Regions from separate parts of the Homo sapiens genome. Here region 1 is linked to region 2. Evidence: fine-mapped expression QTL. A gene starts in region 2. The other region holds a variant in brackets. All regions are shown on one strand. Distances are from middle to middle. Region 1 overlaps BAZ2B (bromodomain adjacent to zinc finger domain 2B). Region 2 holds the start of MARCHF7 (membrane associated ring-CH-type finger 7).

Evidence for each region.
Region 1: its variant is fine-mapped to the expression of MARCHF7 in whole blood (INTERVAL, PIP above 0.99). The same link has a PIP of 0.9 or more in fibroblasts.

What each region holds. Positions count from the first base shown.
Region 1 is chr2:159,567,995-159,584,710 of GRCh38, reverse strand. All of the region lies in intron 1 of BAZ2B (bromodomain adjacent to zinc finger domain 2B), which reads left to right. Among named protein-coding and RNA genes, the nearest start is that of BAZ2B-AS1, 39 kb to the left of the region's middle. The variant G/A (reference allele first, on the strand shown) is at 8,403.
Region 2 is chr2:159,707,900-159,724,559 of GRCh38, reverse strand. It overlaps MARCHF7 (membrane associated ring-CH-type finger 7), which reads right to left and starts at 12,054. Exons shown (of 12, transcript NM_001282805.2): 1 at 11,954-12,054; 2 at 9,962-10,003; 3 at 8,794-8,879. It also overlaps a transcript of BAZ2B not described here. RefSeq lists silencers at 11,456-11,575, 12,096-12,605 and enhancers at 11,766-12,045, 11,813-12,479.

The sequences.
Region 1 (16,716 bases), 140 kb after region 2:
TCTAAACCATGTCCTGTCATCCTTGACTCCTTTCTTGTCTACATTCTTGACTCTTCTTTTCTGTATCTTAACTCCTCTCATATCCCACTTATAAGGCGTCAACAAATTGTGTTGACTCTACTTTGAAAGTATATTTGAATTCTCACCACTTTTCATCACCTTCACTGTTCTATGGCCCAGGTTACAATCATTTCTTGGATATTTGTAGTAGCCTTCTAGGGCTTCTGCTCCTACTCCCAAGAGTCTATTATCAACATAGCAACCAAAGTGATCCTCTTAAAACCTAAATCAGGCTGGGCACAGTGGCTCACGCCTGTAATCCCAGCACTTTGGAAGGCCGAGTGGGTAGGATCATGAGGTCAAGAGATGGAGACCATCTTGGCCAACATGGTGAAACCGCGTCTCTGCTAAAAATACAAAAATTAGCCCGGTGTGGTGGCACATGCTTGTAGTCCCAGCTACTCGGGAGGCTAAGGCAGGAGAATCGCTTGAACCTGGGACATGGAGGATGCAGTGAGTCGAGATCGTGCTGCTGCATTCCAGCCTGGCAATAAAGCAAGACTCCATCTCAAAAAAAAAAAAACCCTAAATCAGATTACATCCCTCCTGTGTTCACACCCCACCATGACTTTACAATGATCTTACAGTGCAAGAGTCTTTACAAGACCCTACAATACATGATCTTCCTCGCAGCATTTTACCTCTCCCCTATTTCTTAATACACTTCTTCTTCACTCTGGGCCAGCTACACTAACCTTCTTGTTGTTTCTTGTATACTTATCAGACACATTCTTCCCTCAAGCTATTTGTATTTGCTATTCCTTCAAATAACCTTATAGCTTGTTCTTAACATCCTTCAAACCATTGCTCAGATGTACACTTCCACATGACTCTTTACCTTAACACTAACAAAAATAAACCGTCTGCCCTGTACTCTCTCTTTTTCTGCTTTATTTCCACCCCATATACTTATGGCCTTCAAATATGCTATAAATGTTTTTTTATTTATATTTTTGTTATCTGTCTCTCCCCATGAAGAAGGCAAGAATTTTTTTTTCTTTTTGTTCACAAATGAGTAGCATCTAGACAATATCTGGTACACAGTAGGCACTACATACGTTTTTATGGAATGAATGAATGCCATTGTACTATAATAATTGATTTACTTATGTTTGTTCCACTTGACTGTAAGCTTCTTGATTGGCAAGTGCTGTGACTCCTGCAGTCTGTTTCATAAGCGGTAAACATACATGACTTGCATGATGTTTGCTCAATTTATGAAAGAATATATTTCATAGCTGGATGTGGTGGCTCACACCTGTAATCCCAGCACTTTGGGAGGCTGAGGCAGGCAGATCACCTGAGCTCAGGAGCTCTAGATCAGCCTGGCCAACATGGCGAAACCCTGTCTCTACTAAAAATACAAAAATTAGCTGGGTGTGCTGGCTGGCACCTGTAATCCCAGCTACTTGGGAGGCTTAGGCAGAAGAATCACTTGAACCTGGGAGGCAGAGGTTGCAGTGAGCTGAGATCGCGCCACTGTACTCCAGCCTGGGCAACAGGAGTGAGACTCCGTCTCAACAAAAAAAAAAAAAAAAGAAAAGAAAAAAGAATATATTTCATATTTTTTACAGGTAAAATAACACAAATATGCATTGGAATTTTTTTTACTTATATGTATAAGTATTTTGTATTGCTATGTATTCTATATAATTATACACATTATTTTTTGTTGAGTTAGCTTTCAAAATCCTTATAAAACTGTAGGCAATTCATAAACAAAATAGGCAAATTGAAAAATTCTCTTGGGTTGATATTTAGTCATTTACTTAACTATTGATTATTATAAGCATTTAAGTGTTCCCAGTGTATATTTTTATAGGTAACGCTTCAGTGAATATCTTAGGAAGTCTTTAATTCAGTAACCTGGAGATACATTGTATTAGAAGAAATGTGTTAAATTTCATATTTATAAAAGAGCCAATAGATTTTTGTTGTGAAAAGATTTATTTTAAATAATATGAACATCCAGGCCCAGTGGCTTACACCTGTAATCCCAGCACTTTGGGAGGCTGAGGTGGGCTGATCACTGGAGTCCAGGAGTTCAAGACCAGCCTGGGCAACATAGTGGGACCCCATCTCTTAAAAAAAATACAAAAATTATTTAGACGTTGTAGTGCTGGCCTGCTGTCCCAGCTACTCCGGAGGCTGAGCTTGAACCTGGGAGGCTGAAGCTGCAGTGAGCCGTGATCGCACACCACTCCAGCGTGAGCTACAGAGTCTCAAAAAAAAAGTATGTGAACTTACCCAGTGCATTTATGTTTTCTGGTGGCTACTTATTTGTATTACAAAGCGATATATTCTTACCGGAGAAACTCAAATCTGTCCATTCATAAAGTAAATATATTCCCTTTGGCCCTGCTGATGGCAGTTTCCAGAACTACTTTAAAATGGTTTGCTGTACATTCTTTCAGACCTTTTTAATATGCACATGAATATATATACTTATTTTTTAAAATCTAATTAAATATGCATTCTGCAGTTTGATTATATATTCTACCTATGCAACAGAAGTCTGCCATGTGAATATATATAAATACGTTTTCTTTAAAAGGATTATACAGTGATGTGTAAGCATTTTTTTTATACTTTAAGTTCTAGGGTACATGTGCACAACGTGCAGGTTTGTTACATATGTACACATGTGCCACGTTAGTGTGCTGCACCCATTAACTTGTAATTTACATTAGGTATATCTCCTAATGCTATCCCTCCCCCCTCCCCCCACCCGACAGGCCCTAGTGTGTGATGTTCCTGACTCTGTGTCCAAGTGTTCTCATTGTTCAATTCGCACCTATGAGTGAGAACATGCGGTGTTTGGTTTTCTGTCCTTGTGATAGTTTGCTCAGAATGATGGTTTCCAGCTTCATCCATATCCCTACAAATGACATGAACTCATCCTTTTTTATGGCTGCATAGTATTCCATGGTGTATATGTGCCACATTTTCTTTATCCAGTCTATCATTGATGGACATTTGGGTTGTTTCCAATTCTTTGCTATTGTGAATAGTGCTGCAATAAACATACATGTGCATGTGTCTTTATAGCAGCATGATTTATAATCCTTTGGGTGTATACCTAGTAATGGGACAGCTGGGTCAAATGGTATTTCTAGTTCTAGATCCTTGAGGAATCACCACACTGTCTTCCACAATGGTTGAACTAGTTTACAGTCCCACCAACAGTGTAAAAGTGTTCCTATTTCTCCACATCCTCTCCAGCACCTGTTGTTTCCTGACTTTTTAATGATCGCCATTCTAACTGGCATGAGATGGTATCTCATAGTGGTTTTGATTTGCATTTCTCTGATGGCCAGTGATGATGAGCATTTTTTCATGTGTCTGTTGGCTGCATAAATGTCTTCTTTTGAGAAGTGTCTGTTCGTATCCTTTGTCCACTTTTTGACGTGGTGGTTTGATTTTTTTTTTCTTGTAAATTTGTTTAAGTTCTTTGTAGATTCTGGATATTAGCCCTTTGTCAGATGGGTAGATCGTAAAAATTTTCTCCCATTCTGTAGGTTGCCTGTTCACTCTGATGGTAGTTTCTTTTGCTGTGCAGAAGCTCTTTAGTTTAATTAGATCCCATTTGTCAATTGTGGCTTTTGTTGCCATTGCTTTTGGTGTTTTAGTCATGAAGTCTTTGCCCATGCCTATGTCCTGAATGGTATTGTCTAGGTTTTCTTCTAGGATTTTTATGATTTTAGGTCTGACATTTAAGTCTTTAATCCATCTTGAATTAATTTTTGTATAAGGTGTGAGGAAGGGATCCAGTTTCAGCTTTCTACATATGGCTAGCCAGTTTTCCCAACACCATTTATTAAATAGGGAATCCTTTCCCCATTGCTTGTTTTTCTCAGGTTTGTCAAAGATCAGATGGTTGTAGATGTGTAGTATTATTTCTGAGGCCTCTGTTCTGTTCCATTGGTCTCTATGTCTGTTTTGGTTACTGTAGCCATGCTGTTTTGGTTACTGTAGCCTTGCAGTATAGTTTGAAGTCAGATAGTGTGATGCCTCCAGCTTTGTTCTTTTGGCTTAGGATTGTCTTGGCAACGCGAGCTCTTTTTTGGTTCCATATGAACTTTAAAGTAGTTTTTTCCAGTTCTGTGAAGAAAGTCATTGGTAGCTTGATGGGGATGGTATTGAATCTATAAATTACCTTGGGCAGTATGGCCATTTTCACGATATTGGTTCTTCCTATCCATGAGCATGGAATGTTCTTCTATTTGTTTGTGTCATCCTTTATTTTGTTGAGCCGTGGTTTGTAGTTCTCCTTGAAGAGGTCCTTCACATCCCTTGTAAGTTGGATTCCTAGGTATTTTATTCTCTTTGAAGCAATTGTGAATGGGAGTTCACTCATGATTTGGCTGTTTCTCTATTATTGGTATATAGGAATGCTTGTGATTTTTGCACATTGATTTTGTATCCTGAGACTTTACTGAAGTTGCTTATCAGCTTAAGGAGATTTTGGGCTGAGACGATGGGGTTTTCTAAATAAAAAATCATGTCATCTGCAAACAGGGACAATTTGACTTCCTCTTTTCCTTATTCAATACCCTTTATTTCTTTCTCCTGCCTGATTGCCCTGGCCAGAACTTCCAACACTATGTTGAATAGGAGTGGTGAGAGAGGGCATCCCTGCCTTGTGCCAGTTTTCAAAGGGAATGCTTCCAGTTTTTGCCCATTCAGTATGATATTGGCTGTGGGTTTGTCATAAATATCTCTTATTATTTTGAGATACATCCCATCAATACCTAGTTTATTGAGAGGTTTTAGCATGAAGGGCTGTTAAATTTTGTTGAAGGCCTTTTCTGCATCTATTGAGATAATGATGTGGTTTTTGTCTTTGGTTCTGTTTATATGGTGTATTACATTTATTGATTTGTGTATGTTGAACCAGCCTTGCATCCCAGGGATGAAGCCAATGTGATCGTGTTGGATAAGCTTTTGCTGCTGGATTCAGTTTGCCAGTATTTTATTGAGGATTTTTGCATCGATGTTCATCAGGGATATTGGTCTAAAATTATCTTTTTTTTGTTGTGTCTCTGCCAGGCTTTGGTATCAGGATGATGTTGGCATTAAAATGAGTTAGGGAGGATTCCCTCTTTTTCTATTGATTGGAATAGTTTCAGAAGGAATGGTACCAGCTCCTCTTTGTACCGCTGGTAGAATTCGGCTGTGAATCCATCTGGTCCTGGACTTGTTTTCGTTGGTAGGCTATTAATTATTGCCTCAATTTCAGAGCTTGTTATTGATCTATTCAGGGATTCAACTTCTTCCTGGTTTAGTCTTGGGAGGGTGTATGTGTCCAGGAATTTATCCATTTCTTCTAGATTTTCTTGTTTATTTGCGTAGAGGTGTTTATAGTATTCTCTGATGGTAGTTTGTATTTCTGGGGGATCGGTGGTGATACCCCGTTTGTCATTTTTTTATTGCGTCTATTTGATTCTTCTCTCTTTTCTTCTTTATTAGTCTTGCTAGCGATCTATCAGTTTTGTTGATGTTTTCAAAAAACCAGCTGCTGGATTCATTGATTTTTTGAAGGGTTTTTTTGTGTCTCTGTCTCCTTCAGTTCTGCTCTGATCTTAGTTATTTGTTGTCTTCTGCTAGCTTTTGAATTTGTTTGCTGTTGCTTATGTAGTTCTTTTAATTGTGACGTTAGGGTGTCAATTTTAGATCTTTCCTGCTTTCTCATGGGCATTTAGTGCTATAAATTTCCCTCTACACACTGCTTTAAATGTGTCCCAGAGGTGGTGGTATGTTGTGTCTTTGTTCTCATTGGTTTCAAAGAACATCTTTATTTCTGCCTTCATCTCGTTATGTACCCAGTAGTCATTGAGGAGCAGGTTGTTCGGTTTCCATGTAGTTAAGCGGTTTTGAGTGAGTTTCTTAATCCTGATTCCTAGTTTGATTGCACTGTGGTCCTAGAGACAGTTGTTAAAATTTCTGTTCTTTTACATTTGCTGAGGAGTGCTTTACTTCCAACTGTGTGGTCAATTTTGGAATAAGTGCGATGTGTTGCTGAGAAGAATGTATATTCTGTTGATTTGGGGTGGAGAGTTCTGTAGATGTCTATTAGGTCTGCTTGGTGCAGAGCTGAGTTCAATTCCTGGATATCCTTGTTAACTTTTTGTCTCGTTGATCTGTCTAATGTAAGCATTTTTAAATCATTCCTTTGTTGAGGGACATTTTGTTTGTCTCTCATTTTGGGAAACATTGGGTTATACAGAAGTATTTTCTGTTCTGCATTATGGATCTCCAAAAAGGGCAAAGGGTGTGCACAATTTTCTGAACTTATTTTACCATAGAACTTTTCTTTTTTTTATGAACTGTGAATTTTTCAAAGAGTGTATTGTATCACTGATCCTCCATTAAAAGTATTTGAAGCTCTTGTCAATCTTCTTGTTTTACTTATAAAATTAAGAGTTAGTAGAAAATTGAAACCACAGTCTGTTTCTTGACTCTGTTGTTCAGTGTTGTTCCTTTTGCTTTGAATTTTTGTCTTCATTTAGTACTCTTTCCTGAATTCAAATAAGAAAGCTAAGCACTAGAGTTTTTATAAGGGAAAAGAACAGTTTTCATGTGTTCATACTAGGGAAAGTTAAAGTTTCTATGTCTTTAGGTTTTTCTTTTTGTCAGCAGGTGATATCTTGGTAGGTAATTAATGACAAGTGAAAACAAGTGAGGTTTCAGACAATTTGATGTAGCTTTCTTTAAATTACTTAAGTCCTCTAACATAAATGAACTAGTTCTTTTCTCATGTTGAATAATTCTTTTAATTACTTTAAGAATAGCTTGAAAAGCAGTATTATAAGTTTCAGTGTGTTTAGTAAGTTTCTTAGCTATTTCTTTAGCCTTTCTCCTTCCCATTAAGGTACCTACTTTTATTTCTTGTGGTGTATAAAAGGACTTTGGTCAATCTAAACTGAAGCAGATACGTTTTAAGATAGAGATATTCTTGAGTCTTGTCACATAATTGTTATTATTTTTCATCTTTCCCTAGGCTGTCAGGTTTCTCTAATCTTAGGGCACATTTAAAGTATTTTTCCTCCCTAACTGAACATTTGCTTGGATCAAGCAGATCATTTTGTGTAGTGAAAACAATCATTGGACCAAGAACTGGTATCCTCTTTTAGTTCTTTGTTTTTCAAATTTATTTAAAGAAATCAAAATAGTTTTTTTCTGATTATAAAGGTAATGCATACTTACAGAAAGTGTAACTAATGCAGAAATAATTTTTTAAAGACAGTTAAGTCACTTAAAATTCTACTATTTGGAGCTAACCTCTTTAACGTGGTAAATGCTCTTCCCTGTAAATATACACACACATTTATAAAAATAAGGTCATACTCTACTGGTTTGTAATTTTCCTTTTTAATCAATAATATGTTTTGGAACATGTTATTTTTTAAGTAAATTTGTTTTAGAGATAGGATCTCACTCTGTCACCTAGGATGGAGTGCAGTGGTGCCATCATGGCTCACTGCAGCCTTGACCCCCTGGGCTCAAGTGATCCTCCTGCCTCAGCCTTCCGAGTAGCTGGGACTAGAGGCATACACCACTGCACCCAACTAATTTTTAAAATTTTTTGGAAAAATGAGGGTCTCACTGTGTTGCCTAGGCTGCTCTTGAACTCCTGGGCTCAAGTAGTCTTCCAACCTTGTTCTCCCAAAGGGCTGAGAATACAGGTGTGAGCCACCGTGCCTGGCCACACTTTCCTTTTTTTTTTTTTTTTTTTTTTGAGACACAGTCTCACTCTGTAGCCCAGGCTGGAGTGCAGTGGCGTGATCTCGGCTCACCGCAACCTCTGCCTCCTGGGTTCAAGCGATTCTCCTGCCTCAGCCTCCCAAGTAGCTGGGACTACAGGCATTTGCCACCATGCCCGGCTAATTTTTTGTATTTTTAGTAGAGACGGGGTTTCACCATGTTAGCCAGGCTGGTCTCGAACTCCCGACCTCGTGATCCACCTGCCTCAGCCTCCCAAAGTACTGGGATTACAGGTGTGAGCCACCGTGCCTGGCCAAAACTTTTATACTTGTTACTGAACTGCCTTTCAGAGTGGTGGTATCAATTTACACTCACTCTAAAACTACCAATTCTGGGTTCTTTTTTTTTTTTTTTTAAACCTTTGATAATCTGATTGGTGCATGATGATAACTCAAATTTGTTCAAATTTGCATTTCTCTGCAAGATTTAGTTTATTTTCATGTATTGGTCAGCTTTATTTCTTTCTTATTTATTTGTTCGTTTTTATTTTTTGTAAAGACGGGGTCTCACTTTGTTGACCAGACTGATCTCTTTTATTTTTTTCTGTAAATTATCTGTCAACATCTTTTGACCACATC[G/A]ATGTTATGCTGTTAGAGCTTTCCATATATTTATTTGTGTAATCCTCACAAGAATTCTTTTAGGTGGGTATATTTGTTCTACTTACAGTTGAGGAAACTGAGATGTGACTCAGTAACTTGCCCAAGATTACAAAGCTAGTGTATAGTAAATCTAGGAATCAAATTCAGATTTCCCTTACTGATTCTTAGTAAGAGCAGCTAGGTTTAGTTGACCTTTTAAATAACATTGTGGAGCTAATTTATATTCTTAGTAATGTTGTGAAGCTGTTTGTTTCTCAGAAATTCTTTAAGTTTCTAAATCTTAAAGGAAAGATATTTTACTAATGTATGTGAATTTTGGTCCTAGCATTTTAGGCTGCTGTTTGTAGAATTGAGCTTTCTGTCCTCCAAACTTCATGTAGTCTAAAATGAATGAAGGAAAACATATAGATTCTTAGATTTTCTAAGAATGTATTTTTGGAGATTTCATATTCAATCATGTTAAAATTTTTTTCTTTTGAAAATGATATTCTTGAGTACATACTAGTATCACTTCAAGAGTTTTATAATCATGTTAATGGAGTACATATAATCATGCTTTTTGTGGATTTTGACCTATTATTCCAATTTCTAGTCTACCAACATTGTTTTGACTCTTCAAATTTTAGAAGTGAGTGATCTAGGGTCTCCATTCCTCACTTTACAGGTTAGGAATCTTAGAGAGGTTCAATAATTAAGTAGTGGCAAATACTGTGGTCCAACCTTAAAAGCAGTTGTAATTTCATTTGGATCATTTGGGTGTTGACTTCTTTGGAGGCAAAGGTTTGTTAAGCCTTCTCAACTTAATGAATTCCTCCATTTACCTTTATATCCCTAATATTATAACTCTTTATAACTCTGTGTCTAGAAGATGGTAAGCCCTTGATACATGCCTGTTGAATTGACTTCACTTCTATTTTTTATCCAGTATATTTTAACCTCTTTCAGGCTATCTACTCTCCCTTTCTGCATGGTTTTTTTTCTTTGGGAGGCAGAGTGTTGCTCTGTCGCCCAGGCTGGAGTAACCCTGGTATGAATGAGGGAAGGTCCAAAAGGGTCCTGAGCATAGAAGCATAGGACTCCCTGTGGAGTCATTCTCCATTTCCTGTTCCCCCAACTCCCATTACCCACTATCCTACTTTCTCTCTCTATGGATTTGCCTACGCTGGACATTGCATGTAAGTGGAATTATACAATATATGGTTTTTTGTGACTGGCTTCTGTCATGTAACATAATGCTTTCCAAGTTCATCCTTGTTGCAGCATGTATTACAACTTCATTTTATTTTCTTTTTTCTTTCTTTTCTTTTCTTTTTTTTTTGAGATGGAGTCTTGCTGTGTTACCCAGGCTGGAATGCAGTGGTAGGATCTTGGCTCACTGCAGCCTCCGCCTCCTGGATTCAAGCGATTCTCCTGCCTCAGCTTCTTGAGTAGCTGGGATTACAGGCGCATGCCACCATGCCCAGCTAATTTTTGTATTTTTAATAGAGATGGGGTTAGGCTGATCTCGAATTTTTGACCTCGTCATCCACCTGCCTCAGCCTCCCAAAGTGCCGGGATTACAGGCGTGAGCCACCGCGCCCAGCCTTCATTTCATTTTCTTACCAAATAATATTTCATTGTATGAGTGTGTCATATTTTGTTTATCCATTTATTATTTGATGAACACTTGAATAATTATGAATAATGTTGCTGTGAACATTCATGTACAAAACCTACATACGTGTAGGTTTTTTTATGGACATATGTTTGTAGTTCTCTTGTGCATATAACTAGGAATGGAATTGCTGGGTGACATAACTCTGTTTAACTTATTGAGAAACTGCCAAAATGTTTTCTAAAGTGGCTGCAATGTTTTGCAATCCCACTGGCATTGTGTAAGGGTTCCAGTTTCCCCACATCCTTACAAACACTTATTAGGTTTTTTTTGTTTTGTTTTGTTTGTTTGTTTGTTTTTTAGCCATTCTAGTGAGTGTGAAGTGCCATCTCGTGGTTTTGATTTGCATTTCTCTGATGACTAATGATATTGAGCATCTTTTCTTATGCTTATTGGCCATTTGTGTATCTTCTTTTGATAAAATATCTATTCAAACCCTTTGCCCATTTTAAAATTGTGCTGTGTGTGTGTGTGTGTGTGTGTGTGTGTGTATGTGTGTGTGTGTGTGTGTGTCTGTCAGTCTCTCCATCTGTCAGGGTCTGGGTCTCACTGTGTCATCCTGGGTAGAGTGCAGTGGCACATCATGGCTCACTGTAGGCTCAACCTCCCAGGCTCTAGGGATCCTCCCCCTCAGCCACCCAAGTAGCTGGGACTATGGGCACATGCCAACACACCCAGCCAATTTTTATATTTTTTTGTAGGTAAGGGATTTTGCCATGTTGCCCAGGCTGGTCTTGAACTCTTGGGCTCAAGCGATCTACCTACCTTGTCCTCCCAAAGTGCTAGGATTATGGATGTGAGCCACCTGTGCCTGGCTGTGTTGTTTTTAATTATTGAGTAGTTATAAGTGTTTTTTAAAAATATATTTTGGATACAACTGTCTTCAGATATATGATATACAAATATTTTCTTCCATTCTGTAGGTTGTCTTTTCACTTTCTTGATAGTGTCCTTTGAAGGACAAAAGTCCACGTTATCTATTTTTCCTTTGATTGCTTGTGCTTTTGATGCCATATCTAAGTAAACATTGCCTAATCCAAGGTCAAGAAGATTTACGCCTTTATTTTCTTCCAGGAATTTTACGTTTTTACCTCTTACGTTTGGGTCATTGATTCATTCTTAGTTCCTTTTTGTGTATGGTGTGAGGTAGGGGTCCAGTTTCCTTCTTTTACATGTGGATATTCAGTTGTTCCAGCACCTTTTGTTGAAAAGATATTCTTTCCCCATTGAATTGTTTTGGCACCCTTGTCAAATATCATTTGACTGTACATGTAAGCAAGGGTTTGTTTCTTGAATCTCAATTCTATTCTGTTGATCTAAAGGTCTAGCATTAAGCCATGCTACTCTGCTTTGATTACTATAGCTTTGTAGTAAATTGAAATCAGAAAGTGTGAGCCTTCCAACTTTATTCTTCCTTTTCAAGATTATTTTGGCAATCCTGGCCAAAATAATCCAAAATTTAACTTTTCATGCTATTTTATCTGAAATTACTTTCTTCAAGGTCACTTATAATCTTTGGCCCAATTCAGTTATACCCCACCCCTAATTTTTTAGTCCTTTTTCAGTTTTCTAGAAAACTATCTCGTTTCCCACTTTCTGGTCCTCTTTTTGATATTTTGCCCTCATAATATTTCTTTTTATTTTCCAGCAGGTAGTGAGCACTTCTCATCTTCTAAGCACCCTGTTAATCTCTGGAAAAGAAAATTCCAATTAAACACAATCCTCATTCTCATGTTGCTTAGGATAAATAATATTAAGAGAGAGGCAGGTACATTCATGCTAATCTCTGTGTTTCATAAAGGAGAATCTGATTTTTGTTTTTGTTTTGGTTTTGGTAATGGATGTTGGCTTAAGTGTTTTTAAACTTGAAAATAATAGTTTAAAAGCATGTACTTATGTTAAAATAATTGTAAAATATAAAAGCAAGCACTATCTATATGGAAAAATTCAATACAAATGAATTGCAAGAACAGCAAAAATCTAGCTCTAAAAAGTGTTACAAACATGCCTATGCATAATAATAATAAAATATATGAGTAGTTTAATATATCTTCTATTTATTGTTCACTTTCACTTATTTATTGATTTATCCAAAATAAATGTATTGAGTATTGTGTGTGCTTTTCCAAAAACAAATTCTCCAATTATTCAGCACCAACTTTGTCTCAACAATTTAATTCCATTCTGACAGTAACTGTTCAAAGTTATTGTAGACCCCACAGTTTAAGGTCTCAGTCCCATAATACTGTCCCCACTTCAGATGCCAGCCACCAGTAGGGTCTCTCAGTTACTCACAGTTCTGACAGGCTGAAACTAATCAGAGGTTCCCACAACCCCCTTCAGTTTCAGTTATTTGCTAGAGACTCATTGAGCTCAGGAAAGTGCTATACTTATCAGTTTATTATAACAGATAACAAATGAGCATCCAGTTGGTAAGGTATATAAGGCAATGTGTAATAGGATCCTGAGCATAGGAGTCTCTGTCCCCTTGGAGTCAGAGTGTGCTACCCTCTCAGCACATGGATCTGTTTACCAACTTGGAAACTCTACAAATCCCGTAATTTAGTGGTTTTTATGGGGGTTTAATTACATAGGCATGCTTGATGAAAACTGGTGCTGTGGTTTGAATGTCCCTTCCAAAAATCATGTTGAAACTTGATGTTGCCATTGTAACAGTATTAAGAGGTGCAGCCTTGAAGATGTGATTAGGCCACAAGGGCTCCACCCTTATGAAGGGATTAATGCACTTACCTGGGAAGTGGGTTTGTTATCTTGGGAGTAGGCTCCTGATCAAGAGATGGATTTGACAGATATCCTCTCTTTATCTCGGGCACTCCCTTGCCCTTCCATCCTGTTATGATGGAGCATGGAGGCCGTCACAAGATGCCAGTGCCATGCTCTTGGACTTCCCAGCCTCCAGAACTGTGAGCAAAATAAACTGCTATTATTTATAAACTACCCATTCTGTGCCATTCTGTTATAGCAGCAGAATAGGGACTAAGACAATTGGCCATTAGCAATTGAACTCAGTGTTCAGCCCCTTTCCCCTCTCTGGATGTCAGGGAGTAGGCCTGAAAGCTCTAACTCCCTAATCATGTGGTTGGTTTTTCTGCAGAGCAGACCCATGATGATGCTGTCTAGCTCTCCCCACCCCATAAATCATCTGTTTAGCATAAGAGACAGTAAATTCCAGGGTTTTTAGGTTTCTGTACCAGTAACTAGGGGTAAAGATCAAATATTTATTACTACACCACAGCATCTACTATATATTATAGGGAAGAAAATATATCTACACATCCTAGATTCATGGCTAAGCTTCCCACACATGCTGTTTCTCAGATTTCTTTAGCTTAAAATATTCAGTATGTCACAGTGTCATGTTTTTTGGGAGAGCATTTCCTGAACCCCATCAGTATCAGACATAATCCTGGCTTTTATGAAATTTGAAGACAGAAAACAAATTGATAAAAAGAAAATCCTGGCTGAGCGTGGTGGCTCGTGCCTATAATCCCAGCACTTTGGTAGGCCAAGGCGGGCGGTTCACTTGCAGTCAGGAGTTCAAGACCAGCCTGGTCAACATGGCAAAACTTCGTTTCTATTAAAAATACAAAAATTAGCCAGGCATGGTGGCAGGCACCTGTAACCCCAGCTACTTGGGAGTCTGAGGCAGGAAAATCTCTTGAACCCAGGAGGAGGAGGTTGCAGTGAGCTGAGATTGTGCCACTGCACTCCAGCCTGGGCAGCAGAGTGAGTCTCCATCTCAAAAAAACAAAAAAAGAAAATGCTAACAATAGGGGATAAATTATTCAATGATAAAGATATGCACAGCATCTTATGGAATATTAGGATTACCACACTTATCCAACCTGCAGGGAGTGCTATGAAGCACAACTAGAGTTGGAAGGGAGAGGTCAGAGGTTAAAAAGTATTTCTGGAGAAGGTTGCTTTTTGCTTGACAAGTGGAAATAAGACAGAGACAGAGAAAGGGTGAAAAATGTGCTGGGATATAAATGACAGGAAAGGGTCAGTCAAGGTGAGGTCACTATCTTCTCAGGGTGATATATAGGAAAGATTTTCTAATTGAGTATTACTTACATTTTTTATATCCTGTCTTCTTCTATATTGTGAAATCCCATTAAGAATACTGTAAGGAGGCCGGGCGCAGTGGCTTACGCCTGTAATCCCAGCACTTTGGGAGGCCGAGGCGGGCGGATCACGAGGTCAGGAGTTTGAGACCAGCCTGGCCAACAGTGAAACCTTGTCTCTACTAAAAATACAAAAATTAGCCAGGCATGGTGGCGTGCGCCTGTAGTCCCAACTGCTCGGGAGGCTGAGGCAAGAGAATCTCTTGAACCCAGGAGGTGGAGATTGCAGTGAGCTGAAATTGCGCCACTGCACTCCAGCCTGGGCCACAGAGCGAGAGTCTGTCTCCAGAAAAAAAACAAAAAAAACAAAAAAAAACTTTAATGAAATTCTGTTTTCTAAAGTGAATTTGGTTTCTAAGTAAGAACATTCTAAGTTTTAAGTTTTAAACCATAGATAAGAATCTTTATTCTCCTTACACTGGTATTGTACCTCAGAGGAAGGTGAGGCATAGATAATATATACAACTTAGTTTAACACATGTATATTGAAAACGTACTATGTATCAGAGACTGTGCACAGACTTATTTCATCATGGATTTTTTTTGTATTTTAATCTATTGACCTGGCTTACTTGAATTAAGGTAGACAACAATAAAAATGATCTCACAGGTGAATTAACTGCTGAAAATTACCTAATTTTCATTTATGTACTTTTTTTTTTATGAGACAGGCTCTTGCTCTGTCACCCAGGCTGGAGTGCACTGGGGTGGTCATAGCTCACTGCTGTCTCAAACTCCTGGGCTCAAGCATTCCTATCACCTCAGCCTCCTAAGGTGCTGGGATTACAGGTGTGTGCTACCGCATCTGGCTACATTTTTGAAACACTATGACAAGAAAAATGTTAGAAAAGTGAAATCATTTTTGAGTTTTGAATCTAAAAAGTACATTTTTAAAGTTTAAATATCTTTTATTATATGTTACTTTGTAAAATCCTAAATCTACCAACTCTCAAAAAAATGCAAATATTATATTTGTATCTTTTTATACTTTTTCTGCTTAATATTAGAAAACTTGCTGGGGAGTTGGGTAATTACAGAAGTTTAGCATTAAATTTGTTTCTTATTTTTATTAAAAATTTTTTGCCTGTCTTGCCTAGATATAAGGAAAGGAAGAACAGAATCTGCACGTGTTGCAAAAGTTGATATTCTTTGAATTGCTCCCCAAACAATCATTGTTTCATCTTGAATAGCTCATGTCATAATTTTTTCAGAGACTGTGGGTAGCCATTCTCTTTGATTAATTCTATCTTTTATGCTTGTTTCATTCACTAGCAGTTTGAGAACAATAATCTATTTTTCATTTAAATCTTTTTTGGTTGTTTTGAGAACATCGCTGAGTAGTGTAAATATGTAATGCTTATGTTTCATTTATAATAGAGATATATGTTGAAATTGTAAGTCAAGGCATAATTTGTTATGGAATGGATCACATCTATTAACTGTTATTTAGTAAATGCTGCCAGTGCATCAATAAGTAGAAAAAAAAGATCATTTCAAGTAATCTAGTGTCACGAAAACCCTAATATGAGGGAAAACTTGTAAATAGTATAATAAAACTCATGTACTAAGATAGTAGTGAATTACAATTTATGCCTAATCAAATTTAGATATTCAGGTGATATAAGTTTGACAACTTTTCATGACCTTGTCCTCTTCTCCCAGTATTATTGTTGAAAATTCAGCTCTTAAGAATCACAATTAGGAAACTCAGAAGTGTTATTTTCACTTTAGCTACTAATTGAATCTGATTAATTAGTTTGAGCATGTATCAGTATCTTCTATTCCCATAACTTTAAAGAAACATATTGCCCGTTCAGTCCAGAGTAATTCAGGCACTGTCAATCCAGGCAACCATCTTAGCTAACACTGTTGAAAGAGAATAAAACTAGTATTACTTTTAAAGTTCCAAAATAAAAGAGCTTTTTTTTTTTTAACTTTTCAGTCTGCATGAACTCCTTTCTCATGAATGAGAACTTAAGAACTCATTTAAATAATTTATAGTTAAATTACATATAAGTACAAATTTAATCATTTTCAGCAGTTGATTCATCTGATAATTTTTTTGTTGCATGCCTTAATCCAGTCATGATGAAAAAATTACATGCTTTTTCTTTTTCAAGCTATAATCTATTGATTTTCATAGTTTTTGTTGAAAGGCTGCATGCTGCTTTAATATCTACCTTTTTCTGATTATTTGACAATTTCAAGTTTTTGTTGAATGTTAACAATATGATTTTCTATGGACATCAGCTGTTCATTAGCTAGGCAATACATCTGATGGGTGAGGAGGAAGAGAATTCACCAGAGACAGACCAAGGAATGGAGAGTGACTGCTTAATTGATATGTTGTTTCTTTTGGGAATGATAAAATGTTCCGGAATTAGATAGTGGTTATGGTTCCACAACATTGTGAATGTACTGAAACCACTGAATTGTGCACTTTCCAGAGATTAAAATGGTGAGTTTTATCTCAAAAAAATTTATTGTGATTTTT
Region 2 (16,660 bases):
GTAAGTTGCAGAAACCTCCTGGAAAGCAGAACCAAAAGAAATAGCAAATGTAACATGAAAATAATTATCTAGAGAGTTATAATTTGACTGTGGTTACAGAAAAATATAGAGAAAATTACCAAATAAACTTTTCTAGAAACGAAGGACAGAACTCTCCAAATTGAAAGGGCTCAAGACTACATAAGAGCATCAAAGAAAAAAGACCAACACTAAGCACAATATACCATCTTGAAACTGCAGAAAACCAGAAGTAATGGGAAGATCCTATAAGTTACTAGAGTGGAAAAAATGGGTCACATACAAAGAGAACGTAATCAGAACAGCTTAACAGCAACAATAAAGTCTTAAGACAATGAAATAATGCTTATAATACTGAGAAAAATGTTTAGCCTTGAATTCCAATCTAGCAAGTACATTTGAAGTGGAGAACAGAACATGTTTTCAGACATGCAAGGTCTCAACAAAACACAACGACCAAAAACACTACCAGAGGAAGCTAAATGAACAGCGTGTCCTAGAAAAATGGGAGTGTGAGGCAGGAAATAACAAGATATGAAACCCAGGAAGCAGCGATAAAGGGGAACTTAAGGGGGATGCTATGCAGAAAGCATGGCAAGCAAACAATTCGGACTGGAGCAGGACCTCAGGTAGCAGAAGTTGTAAGAAAAGAAAAAGCATCACATGGAAACTACATCTCATTGGCATGTGGTAGAGATGGTGGTACAACTTGAAAAAACTGTGTATATAGAAGAAAAGGCAATTTTAAAAATTAATTTTTTAACTTGGAAAAACTTAGCTGTTCATGAAAGGCATGATTGTTATTAGGTGAGCTCTTTAATATTTACATAGTCTTAATAATGTAAATATAGACTACTGAATCAATTTGCTACATATTGTGAGATGGAAGTGGGCAGTGGAAATAAGAATGGTAGGAAACAATGAAAAACCATGAAATAACAGTATAAGCACACTGTTTAGAAAAATGAAAGTATGTAAGTCCTAAAAGAAATAGCTAAATAGCAGAGGGGCACTGCCTTTGCAAAGTGGGACTAGAGATGGGGTAAAGGGTAAGGAAAAGGACTGCTCTTTTCCTTAGAAGCAGGATGACCATATTTCCCCACTTGCCCAGAACAGTCCCAGTTTATGTGCTGAAAAATTCTAATTTATGCTTATTATCCCAGAATAATTATTAATAGTACCTACGCTGTCTCTTAAAAGTGGCCTCATTTGGATGATAAAGCATATGGTCACCTAACTTAGAAATCTTTTCTACCATCGGCTTTTTACAAACTATATACGTATTTGGTAAGTCCATACAAAATATTTCATTAAAAAGAGGTAAATTCTGAACTGGAAATTTTTTAAAGGCATTCATTAGAGAAAAGAATATTAATGGTTAAACAGTGACAATGCAAAAGCCCATGAACAATTTAACAAGTAGCAGATGTGGTATTTTATCAAGGCAGCTATGAAGACACTAAAGGGACTGTATTTGCAATCAGAGGATTTTTGGGAAACAAAATGCTTTTTAAAAGACATACGTCAATATTAAGTTCTATAACAACAATAATGTTTCCTAATAATACCTCTTATAGTTTACTCTGACTACATTTACACCCAGTTCTTACTTGCAGAACTAAACTAACCTAGTAGGAAATCTGCTTAAAACAAACCTCCTTGGGAGAAGGCAAAGAGGCAGAGTCCTTTGAGAGAGATAATTTGATATTGTATGGAACTATTTTTGGCAACTCCTCTACATAAATTGATTGAATTTTGACAATGTAGGTGTTACATGAAAACTTATGTAATTTGGTTGCGTAAGTTGTAGGTCAAAAGCACAAAATATAGTGAAAAACAAAAATGTGCAGTCCTTGAAAAACTTCTATCGAATCACTTAGAAGGTTCTAAGAGACATCTTTTCAAGTCCATTCATTCATTTAACCAAGTTTTTTGGATACTCATGCACTAAGCACAGTAATTAATACTTAACAAGCGAATGAGGTAGGGGGACAACACTAAACGTTCTGAGATGGTGCCTGTAAAGAAATTGTAGTCTAATATGGAACAAACTACACAAATAATCACATAACTTCAATAGTTCTAAGTGCTACAAAGGAAAAGGTATAGGCTGGGCATGGTGGCTTACAGCTGTAATCTCTGCACTTTGGGAGGCCGAGGTGGATCACTTGAGGCCAGGAGTTCGAGACCAGCCTGGCCAACACAGTGAAACCCTCTCTCTACTATAAATACAAAAATTAGCCAGGTGTGGTGGCACGCGCCTGTGATCCCAGCTACTCAGGAGGCTGAGGCACAAGAATCACTTGAAGCCCGGGAGGTGGAGGTTGCAGTGAGCTAACACTGGGCCACTGCACACCAGCCTGGGCAACAGAGAAAGACTGTCTCAAAAACAAAAAAAGAAAAAAGAAAAAGGTATAAGCAAGAGCAGACTACTGGAAAGAGGCATTTGAAGCTTAATGTTTTAAACCAAGACTTAAAAACAAATAGCGCAAAAAAAGTTCACATGTACAATCTTTCCTCAATGGTCAATGAAATGGTCTTTTCCTTCTGTCACTATGTCATGCTTTTTAAAATTCAGATTTCATTTCAGAGCTGGACAGTTAGGCTATCTTCCTGTTTGGTGATAAGAAACTTATCACCAGGGCTGATTTTGTAGGTGTGGGCTCCAAGCTTCATTAAAAGTTTTGCAACTGACATCCTGAAATTCTATCTTTGAATTTGTGTTTTATAAGTGGAGTCAGATAGGGCAGTGAAGTATGCCTCACTGAAGTCCCAGTCATGATAGATCCACTAGAATTTTATCCTCATGTTCCTCATCAACAAGTCTATGACTGAGGAAGGGGAGGCACTGACAAGAGGCTACACTTTCTATTCTCCAGAACTGGTATTGAGTGTGTAAGGAATCTAATTAGCTACAAAGCCACACACACACAGACAAAAATCGTACGATTGGTATTTGAGATTTTTCACTTATTGAACTTTTTGACTTCTGAGATGAAGTTTCTGGATGAAGATTCTCTGAAGCTGATAATGCAGCTGCTAGTTTACCTAATAAGACATACTTTTACTCTGTTAAGTATGTCTTCACCTTAAGGCATTTTAATAGTGGCTGACACAGCAACAAGAGTAAAAAACCTGTATTCATACCAATTCAACAATTTATGTAGTCTGTCTATATCTCACAAACCTGTGGGCTTGCTTTAGCTATGAAAAAAATGAACTGCTTTTTTAAATGAGTGACTCCATTCCTCTGGGCATCCTAAGAAACTCTGAAGATATCCAGGACATAAACAAGGTAAGGAATCTTAACAGGCCACCTCCTCACAATAAGGTGGACTCCAAAAGACCACAACCTCAGATTAAGAGTTAAGGTATTAGGCCCAGTGTGGTGGCTCATGCCTGTAATACCAGCACCTTGGAAAGCCGAGGAGGGTGAATCACAAAGTCAGGAGTTCAAGACCAGCCTGGCCAACATGGCGAAACCGCCTCTACTAAAAATACAGAAAAAAAAAAAAAAATAGCCGTGTGTGGTGGCTCGCGCCTGTAATCTCAGCTAATCCGGAGACTAAGGCAGGAGAATTGCTTGAATCCGGGAGGCAGAGGTTGCAGAGAGCCGAGATCATGCCACTGTACCCCAGCCTGAGCAATAGAGCAAGACTCTGTCTTGAGCGGTTGCGGAAAGAGTTAAGCTATTAATAGAAGTAAACCAGCTCTTGTGCAGATTTGCAGCCCAGGTTAATGTTGCCTGCTTGGTAAATGGAAGTTCAAATCCTGAATTTGGTTTAAGGTGGTCCCAATTTAGTAATCTACCAGGAACATGGCAGAAGCCAACATAAATCTTGCTAGAGGAATATACCTTCATGCTAACTTTCAAATTATTTCTACAAGTATTTTTTCAAGTATAACGAACAAGGGATAACTAAGTATACAGCAAAATAAGATACTACAAACAAGGTCTTTGAGACACAAGATGAGAGAAAAAAAATAGGGTAGCAAAAACATCAAATCAAGCATTTCAGGCAGATTATAAAACTATGCTTAGTGTGTTTGAATAAAGAGAAGCTTGAAAAATACAGGCAAGGAACAGGAAACTGCAAAAAGAGCACTTTTTAACAAATATACAATAGCCATAATATAAATACCACCATGAGGATGAGACACCCAAAATGGAAGACATTATGTAAGATAATTGGCCTAGACTCTTCAGAAATCCTCCATGGCTGGGTGCAGTGGCTCATGCCTGTAATCCCAGCACTTTGGGAGGCCAAGGCAGGAGGATCACGAGGTCATGAGTTCAAGACCAGGCTGGCCAACATGGTGAAACCCCATCTCTACTAAGAATACAAAAATTAGCGGGGCATGGTGTTGCGTTCCTGTAATCCTAGCTCCCTGGGAGGCTGAGGAAGGAGAATCGCTTGAATCCAGGAGGCGGAGGTTGCAGTGAGCCGAGATGGCACCACTGCACCCCAGCCTGGGCAACAGAGCAAGACTCCATCTTGGGGCTGGAGGGGGGAGGGCGGGACACTGCTCCAACATTCTTGGCCTCATACTAAGCACTAGGCAGCGGCAGTCCACTACTGGAATACTCTGAAGGTAAATAAAGCAATAATAAAGGTCATATCCATCTCGACTACAGACAAAACAAAGTCAACCCACCATACTAATGCCCCGACAGAAGAATATGCCCATATCAATGCATAAATATTGTTTATCTCAGTCTCTAATCTGTTCTGTTTTTAGTTTAGCATTTAGTCAAAACTTGTATGATACACAAAAATGCAAGGAAAAAAAATCACCCCATTACCAAGAGATAAAATGGCAGAACCAGACCAAGACATAGCCCCAATGTCAACAAACAAGCAAACTGATGGGTTTAACAATAGACTAGGTAAAATTGAAAAACTGGGGAAGGAGGAAATAAGCTAGAAAAAAATCCCCTCAAACTAAATTAGTATTAGGATCATTACGGGAAGAGACATGGCTCCAAGGATGAGGACCCAAAGTCGTGGAAATGGATAAAAGTCAGATTCAATACATACTTCAAGTCAGAAAGGATTTACCTAATAACTGGGAAGGGAGGCAATTATAATACTGATGAAGAACAAACATTTTACTGTTTTTCTTTCAGGGGATTGGGAGTGGGCGGGGTGGTGGTGGGGGGTGGTCAAGGAAGCACACCAAGATTAGTTGGTTTTGAAAAATGAGCTGTCTGGCTGGTTGTGGTGGCTTCCAGCACTTTGGGAGGCCAGGGCAGGATTGCTTGAGGCGAGGAGTTCAAGACCAGCCTGGGTAACATATTGACACCCCGTCTCTACAAAAAATATTTTTAAAAAAGAATAAGCAGACCAGCCTGGCCAACACGGTGAAACCTCGTCTTTACTAAAAATACAAAAAAAGATTTAGCCGGGCGGTAGTGGTGCACACCTGTAATCCCAGCTACTCGGAAACTGAGGTAGGAGAATTGCCTGAGCCTGGGGAGGTGAAGGTTGTGGTGAGCGGAGATCGCGCCACTGCATCAGAGTGAGACACTTTCTGAAAATAATAATAATAAGCAATTAGAAGTGCCCAGAAGGTCCAGGAGAACGCTGGAAATACAGTTTTGGAGAGCAGTGTGGCTGACGGTATATTTTTCAGTTACATACACTGATTTATTTACTGTTTTCCAGATACATATGCTACCTCCTTGCCTTCTACTTATACTGTACCTTCTATTTGGCACTCTTCCCACAAACTTATCTCTAGTAGAATTTGGGGTACTATGAAAAAGTAAATTGAAAAACTTCAGGCAGTTTAAGAGAACATTAGGAGGAAAGGAGTTCTACCAATTACCCTACTTATGATTAAAGCTTTCTCTGACCACAACCACAAGCTGCCTACCAGGTAGAGCTTGGATTTTTAGTTTATCAAATTTGGAAAGCTGTGAACTCCTAAAAGCAGTACAATGTCCAAAAGTTTTTCTCTGATTCTGCTTATGAAGGTTTTTCTCAAGTATTATGTATCCCCTTCCATTATGCTACGGATCACTGTGTCCCATTATTACAATAATGGCCTTGATCAGGTATCTGTCAAGAGTCACACAGTAGTCATAAAATAACCAGTCTAACAAAAATGCCTCAGCCCTATTAACACATGCTACCTCCCACACCTAAAAGTCTTTTCCTGTATGTTAATGTATTAATAAATATGTATTTAATATATTAATAAAATTCATTTCCTATTTTTTTCCAAAATAGAAAACTGAGGCTAGGCTAGGCAGGAAATAAGTCAATCTTTGCCTAATTTTTGCACATCAGCCAATTTCTATTTGTAGAAATACGCTAGCTGAGTGCAAGCTTCAAAGTCTGCCCCTCACTTGGTATGCTTGGGTATGACTCTAGGTATAATCTAATGCTTAATTTTCTCACCTACAAAATGGTGATAATGATAGTATCAACTTCACAGGTATATTGTGAGGTTTGCTGGCACACAGCATGTGTTCAGCAAATACTAGCTATTATTAACCAATACCATCAGCATGAAGGTTTTCATATAAACAGCTCAGTAGAAATTTTGTTGGCTTTTTCATTATTTGAAATTTGTCTTTAACACATAGTAAAACATCTTTCAAAGTCATTCAGATTTACATACAGGATATTCACTTCAGGGTAAAGAAACCTATACAAGATTACTTATATTAAGTATATGCATTAAACAACTGGAAAGAAATAGCCATTTTTATTATTTTGCTGTTATCTCGGGTGATGGTATTATTAATGTGTTTTTTCTTCTTTATACTTAGTTTTCAAAAAAATTCTTTAATGTACTTTGTTAATTGAGGGCAACAATTATTTGCCAGAGGAAAAGGCATTTTTAAAATAACTTGTATTACAGAAGTCCTAAGGAGAATAATTCCCTTTCTAATTTGCTGGTTTACAGCCTTAGTAGCTACTTACCACAAAAATAACTCTAGTAAAGACTAAGTGAAAGATAAAGTTAAAATACTTCACAAAATGAAGTTCAGATTACCTGAGTATGACTTAAAGTTTTTATCATGAAAAATTTTAAACATACACAAAGGTACAGCCAATAATGAGCTTCCATGTACCAATCAAGTCTTCAACTATTATCCACATTCAACCTCCCTAACCTATTTTACCACCCACTCTATTATTTTAAAGCAATCCCAAGCATGACATCTTTGAGGCTATCTATTCTTATAGTGGTCTAAAGAACCTATGGTAAATTACAAAATATGGCTACAAATGTCCCCCATCCTAGTATTAGCCCCCTTTGTAATGCAACGTTGCTGCACTGCCTAGGATGAGGCAGTCTTACTTCCCCACCCCAGTCTTGTGTGACTAAGAGAATGGACTGTGACACTGTAAGATTTTCAAGGTTGTAAGAGGTCTTACAAGCTTCTCTTAGAATACTGTCCCAAGATTCCTGTGTCATAAATGATCACAAAGAGTAAGGCCTATATGTCCACCAACACTAGCTGCCAAACATGAGTGATGCCATCTTGGATCTCCCAGCCAGGGAAATCCTCCAGCTGAATGCTGGTACATGAGGAGTAAGCCCCGGGCAAAATCAGTAGAACTGCCCAACAGGCACCTAGAACTGTAAAAAACAGTGAACAGTTGTTTTAATCCACTAGGTCCCGAGGTGGTTTGTTATGCAGCCATAGAACAAAGATTCATTACTTATCCTTATTTTCTACTGTTACCATACCATTATCTTATGCCTGCAGTCTCTGAAAACTCTGATTTTAACTGAGTCTAACCTGGGAACTATCTTAAATATCCAGGGAAGATTACAGGTACTGAATTACTAAAAGTACACCACTACTATAGGATAAACTCATGGCACAAAGGCCAGAGCAATCACACAAAATACCAATGTAATCTATCATTTTTTTTTTTGGAGACAGGGTCTCACTCTGCTGCCCAGGCCAGAGTGCAGTGGTGCAATCACTGCAGCCTCGACCTCCTGGGTTCAAGTGATCCTCCCACCTCAGCCTCCTGAGTAGCCTGGACTACAGGCACGCACCACCATACCCAGCTAATTGTTGTATTTTTTTTAGTAGAGACGGGGTTTCATCATGTTGCCCAGGATGGTCTTGAACTCCTGAGCTCAAGCAATCTGCCTGTCTCGGCCTCCCAAAGCGCTGGGATTACAGGAGTGAGCCACCATGCCCAGCCCCAATGCAATATTTCAAGAGTCTTGCAGAAATACAAACACGCAGTTACTATTTCATTATTTACATATACTTTGCATATCCTTTTCTTAAAAAAAAAAATCTGCTTCTGGGGAAATTTTTTTTTTCCTTAGTGGGAAATCATAGTAAACATGGAGACATGGAAGCTAAGGGTGGGTCAATGAGGGAATCACTTTGAAAGTATACAACATTTTGGGCCTTAAAAAAAAGTCTCCCTTAACTAACTTTTAGCTGACAAATACTTAAAACACAAAAATATGACATGCCCAAATCTTAAAAAATTAGAAAAAAGCTTAACATCCCATGAGAAAATATGACTATGATGTTAAGTCTACACTACACCACTGTAAAAGGCAAACTGTTCTCCTTGAAATGAATTTAATCTCTAAGCATCAAGTTTCGATCTTAAGTAGAAACCATTTTAGGGTTCTTTCTACAAAGTATGAAACATCACACTAATGAACAATGATCATAATGGAAAGATAACTACTTTTAAGGTTCAAAACTTGCCTTCTTTTTAAGCTGTTGACAAAAATGGGTGTAGAGCAGCAGGTGATTTTAAAACCAGGTGTTCAACTTACCTAGTCTAACCGGTAGAGTCAGAGAAATATATTTGAGGGCAGGAAAAACCAGCTCTGACCATGTAAGTTCATGCCAGGGCAGAAAGCTGAAAATTAAGATTAATGAAAATTAAACCCCAGCATGCAGTGACTCACACTCAGGCCTGTAATCACAGCGCTTTGGGAGGCTGAGGTGGGAGGATTCCTTGAGCTAAGGAGTTGGAGACCAGCCTGGGAAACATGGTGAAACTGTCTCTATAAAAAAATATAAAAATTAGTCAGACATGGTGGCGCGCACCTGTAGTCCCAGCTACCCAGGAAGCTGAGGTGGGAGAACTGCTTGAGTCTGGGAGACTGCGGCTGCAGCAGCCTAAAAAACAGAGTGAGACCCTGTCACACACTCACACACACAAAATTATTACCCCCCCCACCTAAACTCTCAAATTATAATTTCATTCTCCCCAACTTCAGACTTTTTGGCTCATCCTATGATTAGCAAATGCTGTATATTAAGATAAATTTTTTGACTGCAATTGAATTCTGCTTTGGTGAATTCAAGTAATCTTAGTAGGAACTCAAAATCCGATTCTTTTTAAATTGTAATCATTCTAATGTGATCAGTTGATTCACTTATTTAACAGTTAAAAGCTTCATTAGTTAATTTGTTGTTTAAAAGTAAAGTCTAATGCAACGCTGTGCATTTCATTCATTCATGTCCCATTGTTCTTTATTACTGGCACTTAATTATCTGTGGTAACAGAAGGATGTATCAGCAAAGATTATCTAAAAATTATTTTTATTTTGTTAAGGAACACAATAGCTCTCCATTCCGCAGCATAGAGCACTAACTTTATTTTTATTTTTTTAGAGACAGGGTCTCACTCTGTGGTGCAGGCTGGAGTGCAGTGGAGCTCTATCATACCTCACTGCAGTCTCTGCAACTCGTGAGCTCAAAATGATCGTTCTGCCTCAGCAGCCCAAGTAGCTAGTAGTAGCAGTGCGCACCACTACACCCGCACCACCATGCCCGTAGAGATGGGGTCTTTGTGGCCTGGCTGAACTCCCAGCCTTAAGCGATCCTCCCACCTTGGCCTCCCAAAGTGACGGGATTACAGGAGTGAGCCACCACACCCAGACACTAATTTTCTAGTACAGTACAGAAAGTCTTTTATGTCGGGCTCTAACTTACCATTCAATGTATGTTTCAGCTACAGGAACAAATCATGAATTCCTAAAACAAACCATAATATCATGACTTTGCAGTTTCTTTATCAAAGTCCTAGTGAGCCTTCACATCTTAGTTCAGGCAATAAATAAATAAATCCTGTAAAATTTCCAAGATTAAGCACCCCTCCCCTATGCTCCCACAGAACCACTGTACAGTCATATTAAGATAATAATAGTTGTTTATACATTAGTCTGATGACTAAACAGTGAGTTGTGGAGGGCAGATGCCATGTCAAGCTCATTCTTGTAATGTGAAGCTCTCCATAATTTGTAATTTGACTACAACAAATTACAAATTATCTAAAAAAGTTTTAAGATATTTGACAGATTTTGCATTATAAAATTATTTTCCTACAATAAAATGTCAAAATGTAGACGATTCTTGAACATAGAGCAGATAAAAGAGTTGTGTAAGGTGGGTATGGAGCGGACTAAAAATTGGCTACATGAGAGTCATGGATGACTTTTGTGTCCAAGTTCGTTACCTGACACCTTCATGTAGAACATAACCTGGGCATCCTCGTGCTTTATCTGGGAAAATAGCCCTCTTCCAGGTGGCAGAAAAAAGAAATCATTTGTACTTGAATAAGTAGGAATTCTTAATTCAAGACACCTGACCCAGCACTAAACTTGGAAAAAAACCAAGACTAGTATTATGTCCCCTAGTGACTGCTTCACACACCACCTCAGCAAATTTAATCCTCTCTAGAAATTAACTGCCATGTTTCTGAGACAATCTCGTGAACTTAAATAACTATGGCAAAAATCAAGACTCAAACCCAGGTCTTCTGAGTCTGGTGCTACTGCCTCATGCACCAGTCCTGTCTCCCAAAATGCTGTAGAGCTGTTAAATAAAAATATTATACTGACCTCATTTCTCAAACAAACTTTTTGCTACCTCAAGTAAAAGATCTAGTTACACTACATGTGTGCCTTCTTAATAACTGTATACTATTGGATTTTTAAATCGAAAATTCATCTTTAATCCTACATCTTGGTTCTGGACAGAAAGGTGGAGATTTAAAATAACATGTAATCAGAAAAATAGCTAATCAATCCTACAAAATGGGGGAGAAAACCTCGCCAAATTTCAGTTTTCACACATTTAACTAATAGTAACAAACAACATTAGTCGTGACGAATTTATTACCCAGATAGACTTTCCCAATATATTTACTTTGGTACTTGAGAAAAAGTATTAAGTGCAGCATTTTGGGGTGAGGGGGTGGACACACATCTTCAATACGCAGTTTCACCAAAATGAGGGAGTTTCCTACTCCCGGCGCCTTCTATATTTTTACTTCTTAGGCCAACAGGTCCATTTTTAATACAATCACCTACTTCGAGTTGCAGAACCCACAATTCACCACAACACAAAAATAACTCTCAGGGCGTCACGATATTCAAAAACTGACGTTACCAATAAGACAATCTTGGCCGAATCTAAGGGGCTACCGAAGTCACTTCGACTCGAGGCCGGGCTGGCCGAGCCGGAGCCCTGCCCGCCTTTGCCCCGCGCTCACCGGCGAGCTCACGCGCGACACCCGCGGCCCGCAGGGCTCCGAAGACCCCCCGCCCCACGGCCCAAGAGGAGGCCGCCCCGCGCCAAAGGAGGGCTCAGGCTTCTTCCCGTCACCCGCCACACGTCCCTGAGGAAGACACACAATCTGTCCCCTGCACCCGCCACAAACTCCACCACCCGACCAAAGGCCCCTGGCAAGGGAGGCCTGCGCTGTGGCCCCTTGGCCCCGGTGGCCCCGGACCAAGCTTCTCCACCTCATCCTGAGAGGAAGCGGCCTCCGCGTCCCCAGGCCTCTTCGTTTCCTCCCCTCCCCCACTCGCGGCCTGGTCCCGAACTAGCGCCCAAGACGGAGAAGAACTAGCTCCGCAGCTCATTACCCCGGCTCCTGAGCCGGCACCGACCAGTGCGCGTCCCACTCGCAGCAACACGCACCGCCGCCTTTCTCCTTGGAGTTCTAGGCCCGTGACTGAGGAAATGCAGTCGGCAGCGAAGCACAATGGCGCCCGCCCCTCTCCCGGATCCGGCGCAGAACCAGCCACCACCGTTAAGTGCCCCTCCCTGCTCCTCCTCCCCCCACTTCGCGGACTTCCTGGCTTCTCGCGAGAGTGGCGGCGCGGCGGGGACCGAGAGCTGCGGGCGGGCTGGAGGTACCCCACCGCGGGGTGGTGCTCTGACTGCGGGAACCGTTGAAGAGCTGCCCCCGGGGAGTCAGCGAGGCGCCACTGGTAAGCGGCAGCGGCTGGCTGGCCGGCGTGCCGGCAGCTGGGCTGGCGAGTGTGCGGGCGCCGGGCGCTGGAGGCCCGGGCCGGGGCGGTCCCCGCCCGTCTATAGTCTCTGAGCCAGCCCCTTCCCTCCCGGGCGCCGGGTCCCCGCCCACAGGCCCACCTGCAGGGCCCCGTGCTCGAAATAACGCCCAGCTGGTTGGCTTTTTTTTTTTTTTTTTTTCTTTTTCTGGCTCTTGGTAAGTGGCGCAGTGAATGTTGAATTGAATCAAGCACTGCCTTTTCCGACCTACCCCTCCCCGCTTGCTTCCCTGCCCGCCCTGTGTGATCTAACTGCAAGCCCTTTCCCTTAAGAGTTGGAGCCTGTTTGTCCAACCTTGTGATCATTTCCTTGTGGTAAGAATCTTGGTAAATGATGGTGATCATGTCTTTTAAAATCGTGATAGTAACCTTTAATAGCGTAGCCATCGATTTTGCAGTAAACAAATTCACCTATTTAGAAAGAGGGAGGAAAATTGTGAGGTGAATGGTCTGGTGAATATTAGATGAAACTTTCAAAGAACTGTAAATGTGGCAAACTAAGATGTAAATGAGTACTAATAAATAAAAGGGAGTAGGTTAGGGAAAAGCTACATCTAACTATGTGTAAATATTTAGATGATATGTTGATTTGGAATAATGAATCAAAAGTTTTTTAATGGAAAAGATCAGTTATTGAAACTTGGAAGAATACTGAAAGGCACTTGATTTTTTTTAATGACCTATTTTGTTAAGGTATTAAAAGCAATCCTTTGGATCCAAATAATTCCAATAAATGAAACACAGTGTTTCTACGTGTTTGTCATTACATCGGAAGGGAATGGAGTATCAGTCACTATCATCCTTATTTTATTGTCTTGGGGACTAACAGACTGTACATGTTTCACTATGATAAATTCTAAAATACTATAAATTTTAAAGACTTAAAGGTATTTTAAGTTGGCATGTAAGTGCCAATCTAACTTTTAGGATATGAAATGAAAATAAGCATCTGGTATGGGATAAAGTGAACAGAGATTACTTTTGAGGAAATTAATTTGCCCTTTAAAGAAAAATAATTCTTTTCCAGCCTGTTCGAGTGCCCCTGCAGCATTGTGGTTATAGATACACGGATGTATACACCCTGAAGAACCAGACTATATGGCTTCAAATTCCACCCCTGCCTCTTACTACCTTTGTTATCTCAAGCAATTCCTTAACCTTGCTAAACCTAGGTTTCCTGTAAAACGGGGTTAATAACAGTACCCATGCTCTGTAGCATTGTTTAGATGAGATAACACGTCAGTTCCTGAAACAAGTAAGCATTCCGTAATTGTTAGCTATTACATTCCATGTCTAAACCACCAATAATATTGTTTCTTTCTGTGACTTAATATTACATAGGTCTCTTAGACATCTTCTCAAGATTATGCTAAGAGAAATGACTGCACCCTTTTCCTGAGCTATGGCAGTCAGACCTGGCAGTGGTAACTACTCTACAGAACTCCCAAACCTGGCAAGGATGGTGCAGATTTTGGCAGATTATGGCTTTGTCCCCACCCAGCACTGATGATATTATAAAGTGAGTATGACACCAATTTCCTATGCTAAACAGAGCTTCTAGTTTTTTATTGGTGCTAGTAAATAAAGACCACTGATGAATATGTTTTTATTATTTAAGAATGGTTCGTTGTGTTTCTTTTTAATGTACTCTCTCTGATTTTAGTATTCAGGTAATTATCATGAGTGATAAATAATTATTGAGATTTTGCTATGCTGCAGACATTTTGCAGCCGGGCGCCGTGGCTCATGCCTGTAATCCCAGCACTTTGGGAGGCCAAGGTGGGTGGATCACGAGGTCAGGAGATCGAGACCATCCTGGCTAACACAGTGAAACCCTGTCTCTACTAAAAGTACAAAAAATTAGCCGGGCGTGGTGGCAGGCGCCTGTAGTCCCTGCTACTTGGGAGGCTGAGGCAGAAGAATCACTTGAACCCAGGAGGCAGAAGTTGCAGTGAGCCAAGATCATGCCACTGCACTCCAGCCTGGGCAACAGAGTGAAACTCCATCTCAAAAAAAAAAAAAAGACATTTTGCTAGGAATTATGGATGTGAATAGGTAAAACATGGTCATGGAAAATGACCATAGTTTCTTAACTAAAAATCGTCACAAAGTGATTTGACAGGCAAGTGTTTGAAGTCAAAACTGTTCCAGACAATCTAGACACCGTGCTTGCCTTTTATCCACAGAGTTCCCCCACTTGACCTTCCCTTGCTACTTTTTATCCTTTATGAGTGACTCTGACATACCTTTCTGTATCTAAATATCTTTGTTCACCACTTGCCCTCACCACTCACCTTAGTTTTCATTTTTAAACTTGGCTTCTTCTCTAAGTTAGCATCTTATTGACTATTAACCAATTTTCCCCCTTTTATTTTATAAACTTGTCTGTTATTTACCCATGGTCATTCAACCCTTTACTCTTATGTTTTGAGCATTTCTTCCACCTGATAGCTTAGAATGCTCTTTCAGATATTGAATTTCAAAGTTCTTGTTTTCCCCTCTTTTATTCATCCCACAACCTAATCTTCTAAAAAGCTTCTCTTTGGCAAGGGTAGTTGTAGAGATATCCTTTACTTTGCATAAATGGTGGGACATTGAAAAGATGTGGTTACATTTGCTTTTTGCAAATCATATAATTTTTTATTGATACATAATATTTGTATATATTTATGGGATACATGGGATATTTTGTTACATACATAGAATGTGTAATGATCAAGTCAAGGTATTTAGGATAACCATCATCTAGAACATTTATGACTTCTGTGTGGGTAGTATTTCAAGTCTTCCCTTCTAGCTATTTTGAAATAATGCAATATGATGTTAACTATAGTCATTCTACTCTATTATCAAACATTAGAACTTACTCCTTTTATCCAACTTTATATTTGTACCCATTAACCATCCTCTTTTTGTCCCCACCCCCACCACACACATACTCTTCCCAGCCTCTGATAACTATCATTCTACTGTCTACCTGATTGAGAACAATTTTTTCAGGTGATCTGCCTGCCTCGGCCTCCCAGTGTGCTGGGATTACAGGCGTTAGCCACCGCGCCTGGCCAAGGATCCCTGCTTCTTTTTTTTTTTCTTTTTTTATCCAGCCCAAAATGTCATGAGGACTCCTACTTCTAAGGGATATATTACTTAAAGGTCCATTGTTCTAAGTCTTTGATGTAAGGGATTCCTTTCATAACAAAAATAATAAACTCTCGATTTAGTGCCTTTATAAATTTTTATTTTCCCCACATCAAGTTTTATTTAAAGTTGCCATATTTAGTAAATGAACATCCAAAAAATTCTGTTGGTTGACTTCTACTGGATTAGCATCAAAAACTTTCAATTCCCCAAGCCAGTATTTAAAAGGATATAGAGGCCAGATGTAGTTGCTCAAGCCTATAATCCCAGGACTTTGAGAGGCTGAGTCAGGAGGATGCTTGAGACCAGCGTGGGCAACAAAGCAAGGCCCCATCTATACAAAAAAATTTTAAAAATTAGCCCTGTGCATTGGTGCATGCCTATAATCCCAGCTACTTGGGAGGCTGAGGCAGGAGGATTGCTTGAGCCCAGGAGGTTGAGGCTTGCAGTGAGCGGGGATCATGCCACTGCATTCAGGCCTGGGTGACAGACCCTATCTCAAAATAAATAAATAAAGAAATAAATAAATAAATAAATAAATAAATAAATAAAAGGTTATTAAAACACGTAAAGAGAATACCATCTTGAAACCCTGTCTGAGAAACCTCTCTTACATCTAAGCTTACAGGCTAGATCTCACTGCTTCTAGAAAGATCATTCCTGCTTTTAGTTGCTCTAGAATATCTGGCCTCACCAGGAATAATCCCCAATTTGTGGAACACTTGGAATTCAAACCTTGCACACTGCCTGAAATATATAGAATGCTTAAGAAAAGCAGATACATTTTATTCATGTTTTTAAGTACATGAGGCCTCATTCCATCTCCCAGGCTGGAGTACCCGGCGGTACCATCATAGCTCACTGGAGCCTCAAGCTTCTAGGCTAAAGCTGTCCTCCTGCCTCAGCCTCCTGTGTGGCTGTGACTACAGGTGTGCCACCACAGTGTGGGGCTAGTTGTTTTTAAATTTTTTGCTGCCCAGGCTGGTCCCAAACTCCAAGCCTCAAGTGATCCTCCCTCCCCGGCCTCCCAAAGTACTGGAATTACAGGCATCAGCTACCACATCCAGTTAACAGCTATATTTTATTTTTTTTATTTATTTATTTTGGAGACAGAGTCTCACTCTTGTCTCCCAGGCTGGAATGCAGTGGCTCAGTCTCGGCTCACTGCAACCTCCACCTCCCAGGTTCAAGTGATTCT